2 linked regions of the Homo sapiens genome follow. The protein of the gene in region 1 interacts with the protein of each later gene in a pairwise test. Each region holds a gene or a part of one and is shown on either strand. Other genes may lie near its edges.

Evidence for each region.
Region 2: the proteins of MAPKBP1 (region 1) and FOXN1 interact in binary tests that used the Homo sapiens proteins (3 or more experiments, as listed by UniProt).

Annotation. Positions count from the first base shown.
Region 1 is NC_000015.10:41,819,461-41,826,484, reverse strand, and holds part of MAPKBP1 (mitogen-activated protein kinase-binding protein 1), read right to left. Parts: intron 6,891-7,024; coding exon 6,835-6,890; intron 5,654-6,834; coding exon 5,417-5,653; intron 4,902-5,416; coding exon 4,735-4,901; intron 4,521-4,734; coding exon 4,375-4,520; intron 4,261-4,374; coding exon 4,063-4,260; intron 3,893-4,062; coding exon 3,808-3,892; intron 3,547-3,807; coding exon 3,263-3,546; intron 3,039-3,262; coding exon 2,424-3,038; intron 2,002-2,423; coding exon 1,916-2,001; intron 1,277-1,915; coding exon 1,049-1,276; 3' UTR 1-1,048. UniProt on the Homo sapiens protein: Negative regulator of NOD2 function. It down-regulates NOD2-induced processes such as activation of NF-kappa-B signaling, IL8 secretion and antibacterial response. Involved in JNK signaling pathway.
Region 2 is NC_000017.11:28,509,330-28,516,353, forward strand, and holds part of FOXN1 (forkhead box protein N1), read left to right. Parts: intron 1-7,024. UniProt on the Homo sapiens protein: Transcriptional regulator which regulates the development, differentiation, and function of thymic epithelial cells (TECs) both in the prenatal and postnatal thymus.

The DNA of each region.
Region 1 (7,024 bases):
TGTGAGGAAACCAGGCACACAGCAGCCAGCCAGATACTCTAGCAACCAACACTCAACAGCGTGCTGTGCAGGTAGGTGTGTGTGTGTACATGTGTGCACGTGCATGCGTGTGATCTCATCTGTGGCTGAGGTCCTCAGGAGGTAGGCCAGCGCCCCGTAAACGAGGGATGTTCCAACACAGGCTTCTGACTAAGCATCATTCAGGATGCAGGGAGAAGGTGGCCTCTGGGCTCCAGCAGCCGGCTGGGGTCCAGGGTGGAGGACAGGGAAGAACAAGGGGCTGAGGAAAGGAGGCCAGAGCTTCATGTTTGCCCAGGTGAGGGCTTACTGTCCTGCAGCAACATCCCACAGCTGGCTCAAGTTCTGGCCAGGAGAGTAAGGGGTCACAGGGAAATACAATGCTGGGCCCCTCTTGGAGGGAGAATGGGAGTGGAATGTGCGGGCTCAGGTCCAAATACCAACTCAAGTCTCCTGATGGCTGGGGACACCCTGGAGGGCCAGATGGCTCTGCCTTTCTGAGCTCCAGGTATTGGGGAAAACCACCCTGCTCTGGCAGCCACGGGAGTGCAGCTGGTGTGAGAGGGGAAGTGCAGGTAGAGGTGAAGGCCCACAGTTGGCTGACGGGCACTGAATACCACATCACCTCTCACCTCGACCCCAGAGTACCCTGTGTATGCTCCACCACAGGGAGCTAATCCCTGCAGTAATTTCAAATGGCTTCTAAGAGAGGGCCAGCCCTTCCCAGATTCCTAGATGGGGCAGGCTGCCCTCCTACCTCTCACAGCACCAAGATGACAAAGACCCAAGACCTGTCCCTGCCACTGGAGGGGCTGTGGAGGCAGGAGTTCCAAGGAAGTGAGGCAACAGTCAGGGAAATAAATTAATAAATACAGGCCCCCCACGAGGAGCGGCTGGGAAGGCTGCTTTGCCTCTGAACACTGCTCCCTGCTTTCCACTCCAAGCAGCCCCGCAGGTTTTGGTGAGGGGCAGAGGGGCTGCAGTTTGGAATCGCTGGAGCATTCATTCACTTGGGACAGGCTTCCAGAACTCAGAGTTTGCGTTCCATACGCCGTTCCACGGCTCGAAGCAACAGTTCTGAGTATTGCTCCAGCAGGGCCTGTGTCTGCTCGGCTCCCACAGCCCCAGGGCTGCTGCCTGGGCTGGACAGCACTGCCCCAGCCACAGCTTCCAGCTCCTGTCGCACTGAAGAGAAGGTGTCTCTGAGGAGCTGGGCAATCCGACTTTGCTCTGCTGAGGGCATCTTGCAGCCAGCCACCTGAAATAGCACCCCCAGAAGTGAGGTGGAGGAGCCTGTCAACAGACATATAAAAGGGAGGGGCCCCACCTGGGTCCAGCCTGCCTCAGAAGGGACTAGCTGGGAACTCTACCCGCCAAGATCAGCATGTATGGCCAGGGAACATGGGATGCAGGCAGACTCTGGGGGTGACGCCCAAGGAGGAACCCATTGGATTGCAGAACCGTCTACATCTTATAAGCAACTCCTTATGACAACTCCGGCAGAATCTGCTTTCTCTTTCAAAGTTTGGGCCTTCTTGGACTGTCCCCTATGTCTAAGGGGGCCAAATAATTCATGGATATGAAAAAGGATGCCATTAATAATTACACTGGGACAACGACATAAACTGGGATTGTCCTGAGCCAACTAGGAGGTGTGGTCTCTTCAGGCCTCACCTCCTGAGGGAAGTCTCCAGCTCTTAACCAGAAATGACCGCAGGTGCCCGGTACAAGAGGCTAGCCTGGCCTCTAACCCCCTCACCTATGCTGCCCAAGATGTTCTTGAGTGTGCCATCCTGTCAGCACAAGAGGCTTAGCATACTGTTCTGGACATGGTTATCCGAAACACCCAGCACTACTGACGTGCCCGCCTTCCTGCCGGGGGGCACCTAACACCCACCGAGTGGTAGAGCCGCACTGCCTGGCGCACGCTGCCGCGGAGCTCTGCCACCAGCTGCTCACACTGCTCCAGGCTCACCGCTGGCTCTGAAAGAGACGGATACAGCTCAGTGAGGCCCAGCATGTAGCCCTTTCAGGCCTCCGCACCCAAGACACTCAGAACAGGAGAGACCTAGCCCTCAGCATTGCACCCCCCACTTGCCCTCAGTCCCTTCCTCTTGGCTTCTCTTCCAACGGCCTCCCCAACACCACACAAACAAGGTCCAGAGGAGACGGCCAGCCCCAAGTTCAGAAGCCACTGAATGGGCAAGTGAGTCACAAGGAAATCATGAAGGTTAGCAGGAGGGTCTCACCATCAGGGGTGTGACTTACGGACCTGCGACAGGAGCAGACAGGACAAGAAACACCAGAAGCTGTACCCACAGAAATGGGATGGAGCCAGACAGCGGCCAACAGAGAGGGGAGAGTAAGGATGGGGCAGGAGATGAGAGCTGGGGAGCTGTGCACACCTGAGTCCTGGCTCAGGGCTGCCCCTGGCTTGGTGCATTCCATGGGGTTGGGAGTCTTCTCAGGGGGTGGGGGCTGCAAGTTTTCAGGGCCTTGGAAGAGGCTGCTGACTGGCAGTTGCTGGGCACAGGGGCTGCTGGGCCCAGGATGAGCCTGGCACTCTGTCCTAGGCTTGGGAGTGGTGCCCTCCCCCAAACAGGCCCATCTCTCAGTTGTACTGTGAGCTTTTCCTAGGCCCACCGGGAAGCCAGGCTTTTCTGCCTCGCCAGGGGCCCGGCCTTTGGTGACAGGAGAGAATGCAGCCAGGGTAGGACGGTCAGGCAGTGGTTTGGGGATGTCCAGGACCAGGTGAGCCCGGCTGGGCAGGGCCAGCTTGCTGAGTGGTGAGACTCGGATGGGGGCATGAGCTTGAGGTTCAGCCACCAGGCCCAGGTTCTCCCCAACAGAGATACTGCGGGATATCTTGGCCATGGAACTGGTGGTGGGGTTCTGATAGGAGTGAGGCCGAGACGGACGGCCATCAGCTGGGGGCAGGGAGCCCAGACCATCCTGAGCTTCGATCTCCCGAGACAGCAGTGCGCCTGGTGAAGGGGCCTGCAGACTGGCCTCATGTCTTTCTGCAAAGGAGACAGAGGTATACACAGGTCAGGTGTTGAGGAAGGCATCCCAGGTGCCAACACCCAATCCCGAAGAGCTGCTGTTCCCCTCCACATGCCCATTAAGGGACACCTAGTGGCCAGCACAGTGGCACATCAGGGCCACACCAGGCCCTCCCTCCTCCAGCATGTACATGTGTTCCATACACCCTGCACCCTGGCACTGAACCCATCAGGCTTCTCACCCTGTGGCACCAGACTGTGCACAGACTGGGCCTTCTGGAGTCCAGAAAAGGGGCTGGCTGTGGCCACTCTCTTGGGAGCCCAGCTGCTGTCAGGGTTGAGACGGCATCGTGGCAACAGCACAGAGGCTGCCTGCTGGGGGCTGGGGTTGCCAGAGGACGGTTCCACCTCCGGGGGTGCTCCAGGGGGATTGGCACCATTGCCTCTCGGCTGCTCACCAGATGCCTGTGGCACCTGGGCTGGTCTCGACATCAGTGCCAGGCTTGAGGAGGATGGGGATGGTTCCCTACAGGGAGAACATGTGGGAGAAGGCCCAGAGAAGGCTCAATGCTCCTCCCTGCCAAAATGGCGAGAAACTCATAGCACCAGGGCACTAGGAGAGAACAAGCACAAAGCCAGATAGGGCTGGGGAAAGGCCAGTTAGCCCAAAACTGGGAGTGCAAAACACCCCGCGCATGGAGAGACAGAACACTGGAGAGGAGAGGGCAGCAGCCCTGGGAGGCGAGGAGAGCCAGAGCTGCTGCTGGGGGGTAGGGGGCCTCTGTACCTGAGTGGGCGGGTCTGTACTTGCAACAGGAATCGTGAAGAGATACTCCGAGACTCTGACCTCTCTGGGACCTGCACTGGGGCCCCTACCAAGGTCAGAGAAATCATGAATTGGGGCAAAAACCAAGCCCTTGCCCCAGATTTTGCCTCCTTGAGACCCCCAGCCACAGCCTATACCCTGGGACCCTCCTCTCAGGTAGGCAAGGAGGGGAGAAGGGCAAATTGCAGGCACTAAATGCTGGCCCTCTGACCACACCTGGAGCAGCTCCACTGGCCAGAGTCTCAAAGTGCTGTTTTAGAAACTGCTCCTGGTCTGGAGTCTGGGGGCTGCCCTCCTGTAGCCCATAGGGGCCCATGCCTCCCTCCTCTTCTTCCTCTTCTTCATCACCCTCAGCTGGCTCTTCAAGGTCTGAGGAGATGCCATCCACACTGAGGGGCTCCGTGCTCTCAGAGTCTGGGTGTGGGGAGGGGAGAGAGGCATCGCACTGCACCCATCTGTTGCCAGAGCCTCCCCACCCACCTCCAGGCCCCACCCCCCATGGCCCCTCCCTCCAGGCTACAGCCTCACCTTCAGTGGGGTGCTCCGGGCTGGAAAGGCAGCTGCTGCTGTAATCCACAGAGCAGGCACTGTCAGGGCTGTGCTTTTCTGAGCTCCTGCTGCCTGGGTACACTCTTCCCAGAGTTCCCCGGGCTGGAGCCTGCACTTGGAACTCACTGTCAGGATTCCAGCAGGGAGAAGAAAAGGCAGTGAGCAGGGGTAGGCAGCAGCCCCGCTGGACTCCTGCCTGTGATCAGGGTGAGGGATGAGGCAGTGGTGAGCTGGAAGGAAAGCCCTGAGTATCCTGGGGGCCAACCCTCCCTCGACTAAAGAACACTCATAGGGAGGGGAAGACGGGGGCACGGGGTCTGGCTAGGGCAGGATCCTTGCCTGGTATCCATGGTGGGGTTGTCACTCGGCTCCGGGTAGACAATACCATCTTCAATGGGTGCAGGTTCCAGATCTTGGGCAAAGACCCCTTCCTCTTGTGACAATAATCGGATAATATGGGGATAGGAACAAGGTTGGGAAGCCTGAGGCCGAGGGGGCTTTTCATTCTGGGAACACACAAAGGGATGTTAACAGAGCAGAGGTGACAGATGAGGCAGTGGTAGCTGGGGGGTAAGCCCTGAGTATCCTGGGGGCCAACCCTCCCCTTGGAGAAGAGGTGGAGGTGAGTAAGGATGCGGTGTGCACTCATTCAAGGGGAAGCTGAAGGACAGACATCGAGAAGCCAGGCTGGGCTCCAGTTGCTGATGTGAGCTTCTGGATGAACTATATTAGCACTCTGGGCTGCCAACCTCCAGCTACCACTTAATACCAAGAGTCCTCCAAGAAACCCAGCCCAGGGCAAAGGCCACTTTTGCCTCTCTACCCCAACCCCTCCCCTGCCTATCCTGATGACCAAACCATACAGCCCAGCCACCCCCATCCTGGCTTTGCAGTTCAGGTTACCCATGTGCCACAGGGGCAGAGCAAGCATAGCTGGACCAGTGCTCAGGTCCCAGCTGGTGGCAAAGGCTGCCTAAGGCCCCTTGGAACTCTCTAGAGAGCTGGGAGAAAGCAGGCTCACCTGGCTAGTGAGTGAAGTCTCAAGGGCCTCCTGCCCATGCTTCCTGGGACCAGATGGGATGATGGCCAGCGAGTCCTGGCTAGGGTCCTGCAGGCTTGGGGCCAGTGTTTCCAGCTGCCGCAGATCCAGCATGGATCTAACGCTCAGTTCCACACCTGGCTGAACCCAGCGCCCTCTTCTTCTGGGTCCTGGGTTGGCTGCAGGAGCTGGGTCCAGGAACCCCACGGACTCCTGTGCCTGGTGGGAGGTAGGGGGTGGGGGAGGAGTAACAACAACCACACAGTAAGATCAACAAATATCCACATATCCCTTACTATGTGCCTGGCACACTACACATACTAGCTTACTTCATCCTCACAGCAACCTTTTGAAATGGGCACTAGTATAATCCTTGTTTTACAGATGAGGAGACTGAAGCACAGGGGGCTTAAGTGAGCAGTCTGCGTCCCACAGACAGTAAGTGGCCTGCAGATTAGTCTGGCTCCAGAGTTCATGCTCTTAGCTGCATTCCGCATCCTCTGGCACAGGAACCCCTAGTCTCAGCCTTCACCTGGTATCATGGATGCCTCAGAGCTGGGGGTCTCTAAAAGTCTCCTACTCTGAGGACAGCCCCAGCAGCAACCACTTACTACCAAGAGTCCCCCAAGAAATCCAGCCCAGGGCAAAGGCCACTTCTGCCTGTCTACCCCAACCACTCCTTTTGCCTCTCTACCCCAATCACTCCAATAGCTGGGGGCCCCAAAGTCCCCTCACAGCACCAAGGACAAACCTATAGCCCAGGCCTGAGACCCCTGGCCCGGTCAGGGTGCTCCAGAGACACCACAGCATCATCACTCTGTGAAACTGTTGCTGACAACGGAAGGTACTGGTGCTTGGGAACTTGCTCTGAACACCTTGATCCCCCTTTGGCCACCCCAGGGCAGTCGCTGAGTTATGGGTCCCCTCATGGCCTTTTCCCTCTAACTATTCTGGAAGTTCTCCGCTTACCTCCTAACCGGGATCTTTAGAACTGTTTCTCCAGATCTCCGCTCTTTGGATCCTTGATTTCCTGCATTTTAGTTCTAACTATCTGGCTTAGGGGTCCTTTGTCCTCTCCACCTTGAGCTCTTCTCTGATGATATTTACTTCCAGGCACCAGGCAGCTGAACAAGTGCCCCACCTCCCCAGTGCTGACTAACCCTGTGCTCCATCCACCCCAACTGGTCCACAGGAAGGAAATACCTGGGCTTTCTTCACCCCCGCACCCAGGACCAGCCCAGCTGCTTCAACTTCCCCGACAAGGCCTTCCTTGGACACACGAGTGCAGCATGTGGGCAGACCCCATGCCCCAGTACCCTACCAGGCCCAGAGAGCCCTGTTCTCACAGCTCCCTTTGCCTCCTCTAACCTTGGAAGAACATTTTAACAATGGCGACTCACCCGACTCATCTCCCAGTGGGACAGGCTTCGGGGCAAAGCTGGGCTGGGGACCGAGGCTAGACAGAAACAGGCAGTCAGAGGAAGTGTCTCCTGCCCCCCCCCCGCCACCCAACCCTGGAGCCCTGGCCCCATCAGCCCATACCCTGTGTGGCCACAGTGATGCCTCAGTTTCCTCAGCTCACACTGCTCT
Region 2 (7,024 bases), on another chromosome or scaffold:
CCAAACTTGCCTCCATCACCACCACCCCATCCTGCTCCTTCCTCCTTACCTCATCTCCTCACTCCCACCTCCAACCACACTCCTATCCCCATCTCCACCTCCTGCTCCATTCCTCAGGATGGATCTCCTCCTATGTCACAGGTTCCCTTGGAGTCTAACACCCCTCACCAGCATCCCCGCCAGGTTCTGGGGTGTCCCCCAGGTTGTCTGAGCATTGAGGAAAAGCCCAGAGCCATGCCAATAGACAAAACGAGCAGGACAAGATCATCCCTGGAGCAGCCCTTAGCTTCCTCATCCTATCTGGGCCGTAAAGGCTGGATGCTCACCAAACAGTAAAAATGAGTTCAGATGCAACAAGACAAGTGGAGGGCTGGCGCCCAGACAGACCTCCACACTGCGGGCATGTGGCAGTGAAGCGGGGATGGAGAGACACCCTCATAGAGCCCCAAAGCGGGGCCGGGGCAGGCTTTCTCAGGGGGCTGGGAGCGTAACTGATCCTATCAGGCATGGCGGGCCAAGGAAGAGGGGGCATGGAAGCAGGAGCAGGGATTTTTAGGGTTGATTAGGAGTGCGCATCCCCGGGTCTCTACCCTGCCTGTGGCCCTTGCTTAGTCAGCTCAGATTAATGGGGCCAGGGAGAGAATTCGCTGAATCGTGATCTCTTGGGGAACTTGACTGGAGAGCCAGCTGTGAGTCATGGAGAAAAGGGAACCTGTGCTCTCACAGCTACTCTAGAAGCTTCCAGGGGTAGGCAACCCTCCAGATCCTCCCATCCCCTTCCAGAATGCAACAGAAAGCCCACTGCAAGGTCTGACCCTCGCCCTCCACCCCATGCTCACAGGAGGATGCACTGTCAGTCAGCTCCAAATCCTGCCCTCATACACCCTCCGGGGCCTTCAGGGCTCCCCCCACTGCCTCTGACAAACTACAGCACAGAGACACACATACACACAGAGACACACACACACAGAGACACACACCCAGACACATGCACAGAGATACATACATGCACACACGCATACATATATACATACAGAGAGACACACACAGAGACACACACAGACACACGCGCACGCACACACACAGAATGAGAATGGGGTGCATCCCTGGAACCAGATTGCCTGGAGACAGTTGGAGGTCCCACTTACACTTGTAAATTCCATAGCCATGTCCCGGACTGCACCAGCCCATCAGTCTCGGAAGGCATAGAATGTACATGAGGAAGGACACACACACACACGCACACACACGCACACACACACACACACACACACACACACACACATCGCTGTGATCAGAAAACCCAATTATCAGACTCTGCACTTAGCACCCCTCCTCCACGCAGGCCCAGAGTGACCACAGCAGTCTTCACTGTCAGTGGGGGCAGTGTCCCCAGCTTCCTCTGGAGAGGGTTCCTGGAGCCCACGTTGGGCACCAAGAGCATGTGGCTTCATAGAGGTGGCTCTGCTTCTCTGTGCCTTCCCGCAAGCGTGGTCAATCTGCCTAAAGTGGGAAGGGTTTTGGAGAAAAAATTATTTGGGGTGGCAATGCCAAATCCAGTATGATCTGAGGGTGGTCAAGGGAGAAAGATGGCAGCTGGAGCCAAGGAGCTGGATGGGCTCAGGAAAATGCCCCCAGAGCCTGCCCCTTCTCCAGGGACATGATTAGGTGCTGAGAGCTGCTTCCCATAGCCCCAGCACCTGGAGGAAGGAGCAGCGCACAGATGCCTGCATAGCAGGGAACAATCTCTCCCACTGGTGGGACCTCGGTTTCCCCATCTGTCAGATAAAGAGGGGCTTGGGTGGGAGGGCCTCCCAGTGCACTTCTCACTTCAAGGCTTAGTAAGTTCAAGGAGATAACCACCTGCCCATCCCCTGTGCAAGATGGCATTGGGAGAGGAGGTGCACCAGTATGTATTTGCCTTGTACTAAATCTGTATTATTAGTAGTGGTGGCAGAATTAATATCCTTAATAATAGATTGGTATTAATGAGCAGTTCTGATAATGATATGTACAGAATGTGAGAGGCCCCTGGCCCAACGGACAGTGGGATCCTGGGCCATTTCTTTGCCCCCACTCAGGTGGACAGGCAAAGAGCGAGCGCACCAGCAGGACGAGGGCCCTCTTGACCATCCCCCTGGGGCACACCCCTAGGAAGGGCAGATGTTTGAAGGTAAAAAGATCTCACTCAGCCCCATCCCACTCCTGAAATCCTACAGGCCTGGGACCCCAGGGGAGGAGGCAGGGGCACCAGACAAGCTGGTGCTGGTTTAACTTCTGAGGATTTTGACATTCTGGTTCTCACTCGGTCCCCAGGACAGCCAGATGAGGTATGTAGGGCAAAGATGAGGACTCCATTTTATAAAGGAGGGAACAAGGTTTATTCTCATGACTAGCCCACACCGAGAGCAGAGCTGGGAAAGGACCCTCCTGCAGTCCTTGGTCGGGAGGACTCACTGTGAGGGAAAAGGGGGATTCTGTAGGGAAGCCAGGATCTGGGCTCAGTGAAGGCGTCCAGAGATTATAACGCCAGGTTACGGGGGAGGTGAGACCAAGCTCCAACATCCCTGTTGGTCTCACAGATCAAATCCTCTGCTGCCAATCACTGCCACAGCCCAACAACTCCAAAGCCAATTACCTACACAGCCCACAGGAGGCTGGGGGTGGGACCATCGGGCTCAGCCCTGGGTGACTTCATTACAGGGGTAGGACTTCCGGGCCACAGGGACCCAGAGCTAATGAGTGCTTAGAGGTCAGCCACTTCATCCCATACCCCAGCCCATTTCTCCATCCCCTTCAGCCAGTGTAGCTGGAGGAAGCTTGTTGAGGAGGGATGAAGGCAAGGCTTCACAATCTGTGCAAAAGCCTCCTGGTCCTTCACTCATGCCCCACCTCATCAGCCATTCTTTGGCCCTTATCACAGCTGGGCAGACTGAGGATTTCAGGGAACTTTCTTCTCTAGAAACCAATGTCTAAGGCCTCAGATCACTGCTTTCTGAACACTGCCCCCTGGAAGGATCAAGCAGGCAACAAGTTCCTCCTTCTCAAAAGTCCAGCTTTCCAGTCAAGCCCTGAGTGGTTCTAGGCCACCTTGTCCACCTCCAAGTCCTAGGTCAGGCCAGTTCTCACCATCAGACTCAGCCATGGCTTCAAAAAATCCCTGGGAATAGGTGAGCACCGTGGCATGCACTTTTAGTCTCATATACTCCAGAGGCTGAGGCGAGAGCCTAGGAGTTTGAGACCAGCCTGGGCAACAAAGCAAGACCCCATCTCTAGAACCTGGGGAAGGTGGAGGTGGGAGAACCTTCTCCTTAAACTGCCTGTCCAAGGGGGTTTTATGTTTTTGGAACTGGGAATTCCCCTCCCCCACTAACCTTGGCGGGGCAAGCTTGCTGACCTTGCTTCTGGGAGCAAGATGTTGGGGTAGGCTCCCAGCCTCAGAGCCTGGACTCCAGAGTAGCCAGGGAGGCAGGAGGGTGGAGGAGGCAGACCATGAATGACACCCACAAGTAAGAGCAAAAGATCCCTGGAGGCCGAGGATGCTTAGGTGGGAGGTCTCTGTCAAGGAGCATCTAAGGAGTAGGAAGAACCCAGTAGGGCTGATCTCTCAGACTAGCAGAGGAGAGAAGGGGTCCTAGTAGGTATGTCTCAGAAAGGAATGGATGGAAGCTTTGAGGGGTAGCATTTCTTGTTTCCTTGAAACCAAACACCCCTTTCTTTCCATCTACAAAATAAACATCCCCAGCTTGGCCAACATGGCAAAACCCCATCTCTGCTAAAAATACAAAAGTTAACCAGACTTGGTGCTGCCCGCCTGTAATCCCAGCTTCTTGGGAGGCTGAGGCAGGAGAATCGCTTGAACCCAGGAGGTGGAGGTTGCAGTGAGCCAAGATTGCACCACTGCACTCCACCCTGGGTGACAGAGTGAGACTTTGTCTCAAACAAACAAACAAAAAAAACCAGAATAAACATTCACGGGTAGGTCAAGGACATCCATCCATCTATCCCACTAAATATTCATCCTTTACACTACAGATACTCACAGAAATAAAAATACTTAAAATAAAAAAATAAAACATTCATCTATCTGTCTGTTGATTTGTCCATCTGTCCAGCTTTCCATCCATCAATCTCTCCATCCGATGATCTGTCCATTCATCCAACTGTTCATCTTTACATACATAAATACATCTATCTATCCACCCATCCATCCAGAGAGGTCAGGCTCTAGTTGGCCTCCCCAGGGCTGCTAGGAAGGGCCTGTGGTCCTGTGGCATTTATGGGGCATGTGACCTGCCTGCCTGGCCTGGGGAGACAGCCCCGCCTCAGCCCTCGGGCAGGGGGCCGGTCCAGGCATGTGGGAGTATTTATACCTCGATGGAGGCTCCTGGGGAGCTGCAGGCTGAATGACTCCCCGAAGCGGTGATGGTGGCCATGACCCAGAGCCCACTGTGAGTGCTTGGATTTGGCTCCTTTGGGGCCATGGCTGGGTGGCAGAGGTTAGAGAGGGGCTGGAGAGACGGGAAGGTGCCCAGAGGCAGCCAGGGATGGCGAAAAGGAAGGGGTGCTGGGCAAAGGAGAGTGGGAGACTGGTTGCTGTTGGAGTCAGGCATCTGAAGCAAAGCTGGGACCCTCCCTGCAGAAGGGATGAGTCTATTGCCCTTAAAGAGGCTCTGGTGGGTGGCTTGGTGAATGGCAGGAAGGACAGGACAAGAGGACTAAGATTACAATAAATAGGGATTAGAGATCTGGAAGAACCTCCAGGTCGGCCCAAGGCTCAAGTGCTTTTCCAGGATGGGCGTACTAGGCAATGCTCTGGGACCAGCCTGCTTCCAGAGGCACATGGGAATGCTGAAGAGTCTTTAGGAGAAGCCTGATTTGGGGACTGGAATGACTCAGCTGCAGGTGTCGGTGGCTCACATGGAGGAAAGCGTCACCTGGGGGACATGGTGGCTTTTCATCCTTTGTTCTCCCCACTCCCCTCCCTGCCCATTCTGTCCCTACCTGCTCTGTACTTGAGTCAGATCTCAAGGCAGGGGCACGCAACCCATTTTCCGAAACTGATGCTGGGTTAAGAGCCAGGGAGGCCAGAATTTTGCCCTCAGAACTTCCAACATTGATGGGGAGAAAGGAGCTAGAAACCCCCTCTTTCTTGGCATTCCCAGACCCCGAGTTTCCTTGGGTGCCCAAGCCTCAGGCAGAGCCCCCAGGTCCTTCCCTGCCACCCCCATAATTGCCGAGCTGCTCCAGGGGACCCCTCCCAGCAGCCTGTCGGGTGGAGCCCTGGGTGGGGCTACAGGCCAGCACCCGGCCGGCCGAGCCCCACCCCTCGTAAAACATGCTGCCGCAGCCAGCAACAGAAACCATTAAGGTGGAACTGAGCCGTCCCCACCTCACTCATAAAGAGTGGGTAGGAGGCCGCCAGGTGGGAGGCAGCAGGGAGCGTGAAGAGAGCCTGGGGAGGACCCTTGGTGCCCCAGGCCTGTCTGTCCCTGTGATTCAGTTGCCCACAGGGGAGGCAGGGACAGACCCTCCCAAGGAAACCTCCAACGTCGCCCCCACCCACCTTTCAGGCTTGAGCAGGGAGGCTGAGGCGTTACCAAGGTGGGGCCGTGTAGCGTAATGGTTCAGCATGCTGGCTTTGAAGCCCGGGTTGGAATCCTGGGGAGCATAATATACTAGCTGAGTGAACTTGGGCAAGTCAGGTTAACTTCTCTGAGTCTCAGTTTCCTCATCTATAAAATGGGATGATAATACAGCTCCTCCTTCCTGGGGTGTAAAAACTCAGCCAAGTCTTCCTGATCTCCTTGAGGATGTCCTCAGGGGCGCCCCACATAAAGGCAGAGGAGGGGTGAGGTCCCTGCTGACAGCTCTGTGGGCCAGATACACCTTTACAGGGTACATATCTCCACAGGGTACACACCTCTATGAGGTACACACCTCCACAGGGTACACACTTCCACAGGGTACATACCTCCAAAGAGTACAGAGTACATACCTCCACAGGGTACACACCTCCACAGAGTACACCCCTTCATAGGTGTACACATCTCCACAGGGTACACCCTCCACAGGTGTGCACATTTCCAAAGGTGTATACACTTCCACAGGTGAACATACCTCCACAGGTGAACACACTTCCACAGGGTACATACTTCCATAGGTGAACATACTTCCACAAGTGTACACCCCTTCACAGAGGTACACCCCTCCATGTGGTACATGCTTCTACAGGGTACACACTTCCACAGATGAACATACCTCCACAGGCTACACATCTCCACAGGTGTACACCCCTCCAAAAGTATAGACTTCCACAGGTGTACACACCTCCACAGGGTATACAGTTCCATTGGTGAATATACCTCCACAGGTGTACACTCCTCAACAGGTATACACCCCTCCACAAGTATACACACTTTCACAGGAGTACACCCCTCCACAGTGTACATACCTCCAAAGGTGAACACCATTCCCCAGGTGTATACACCTCCACAGATATACATACCTTCACAGGCGTACACACCTCCACAGGGTACACACTTCCACAGGTGAACATATCTCTACAGTGTCCATACCTTCACAGGGTACACATTTCCACAGGTATACCCTCCTCAACAGGTGTACACCCCTCCACAAGTATACACATTTCCACAGGGGTACACACCTCCAGAGGATCCATACTTCCACAGGGTATACAACTCCACAGGATCCATAACTCCACAGGATACACACCTCCACAGGATCCATACCTCCACAGGGTACACATCTCCACAGGGTACACACCTCCACAGGATCCTTACATCCACAGGGTACACATCTCCACAGGATCCATACCTCCACAGGGTACACACCTCCACAGGGTACACACCTCCACAGGATCCATAGCTCCAAAGGGTACACATCTCCAGAGGATACACATCTCCACAGAATCCATACCTCCACAGGGTACACACCTCTACAGGGTACACACTGCCACAGGATCCACACCTCCACAAGGTACACACCTCCACAGGTTACACAC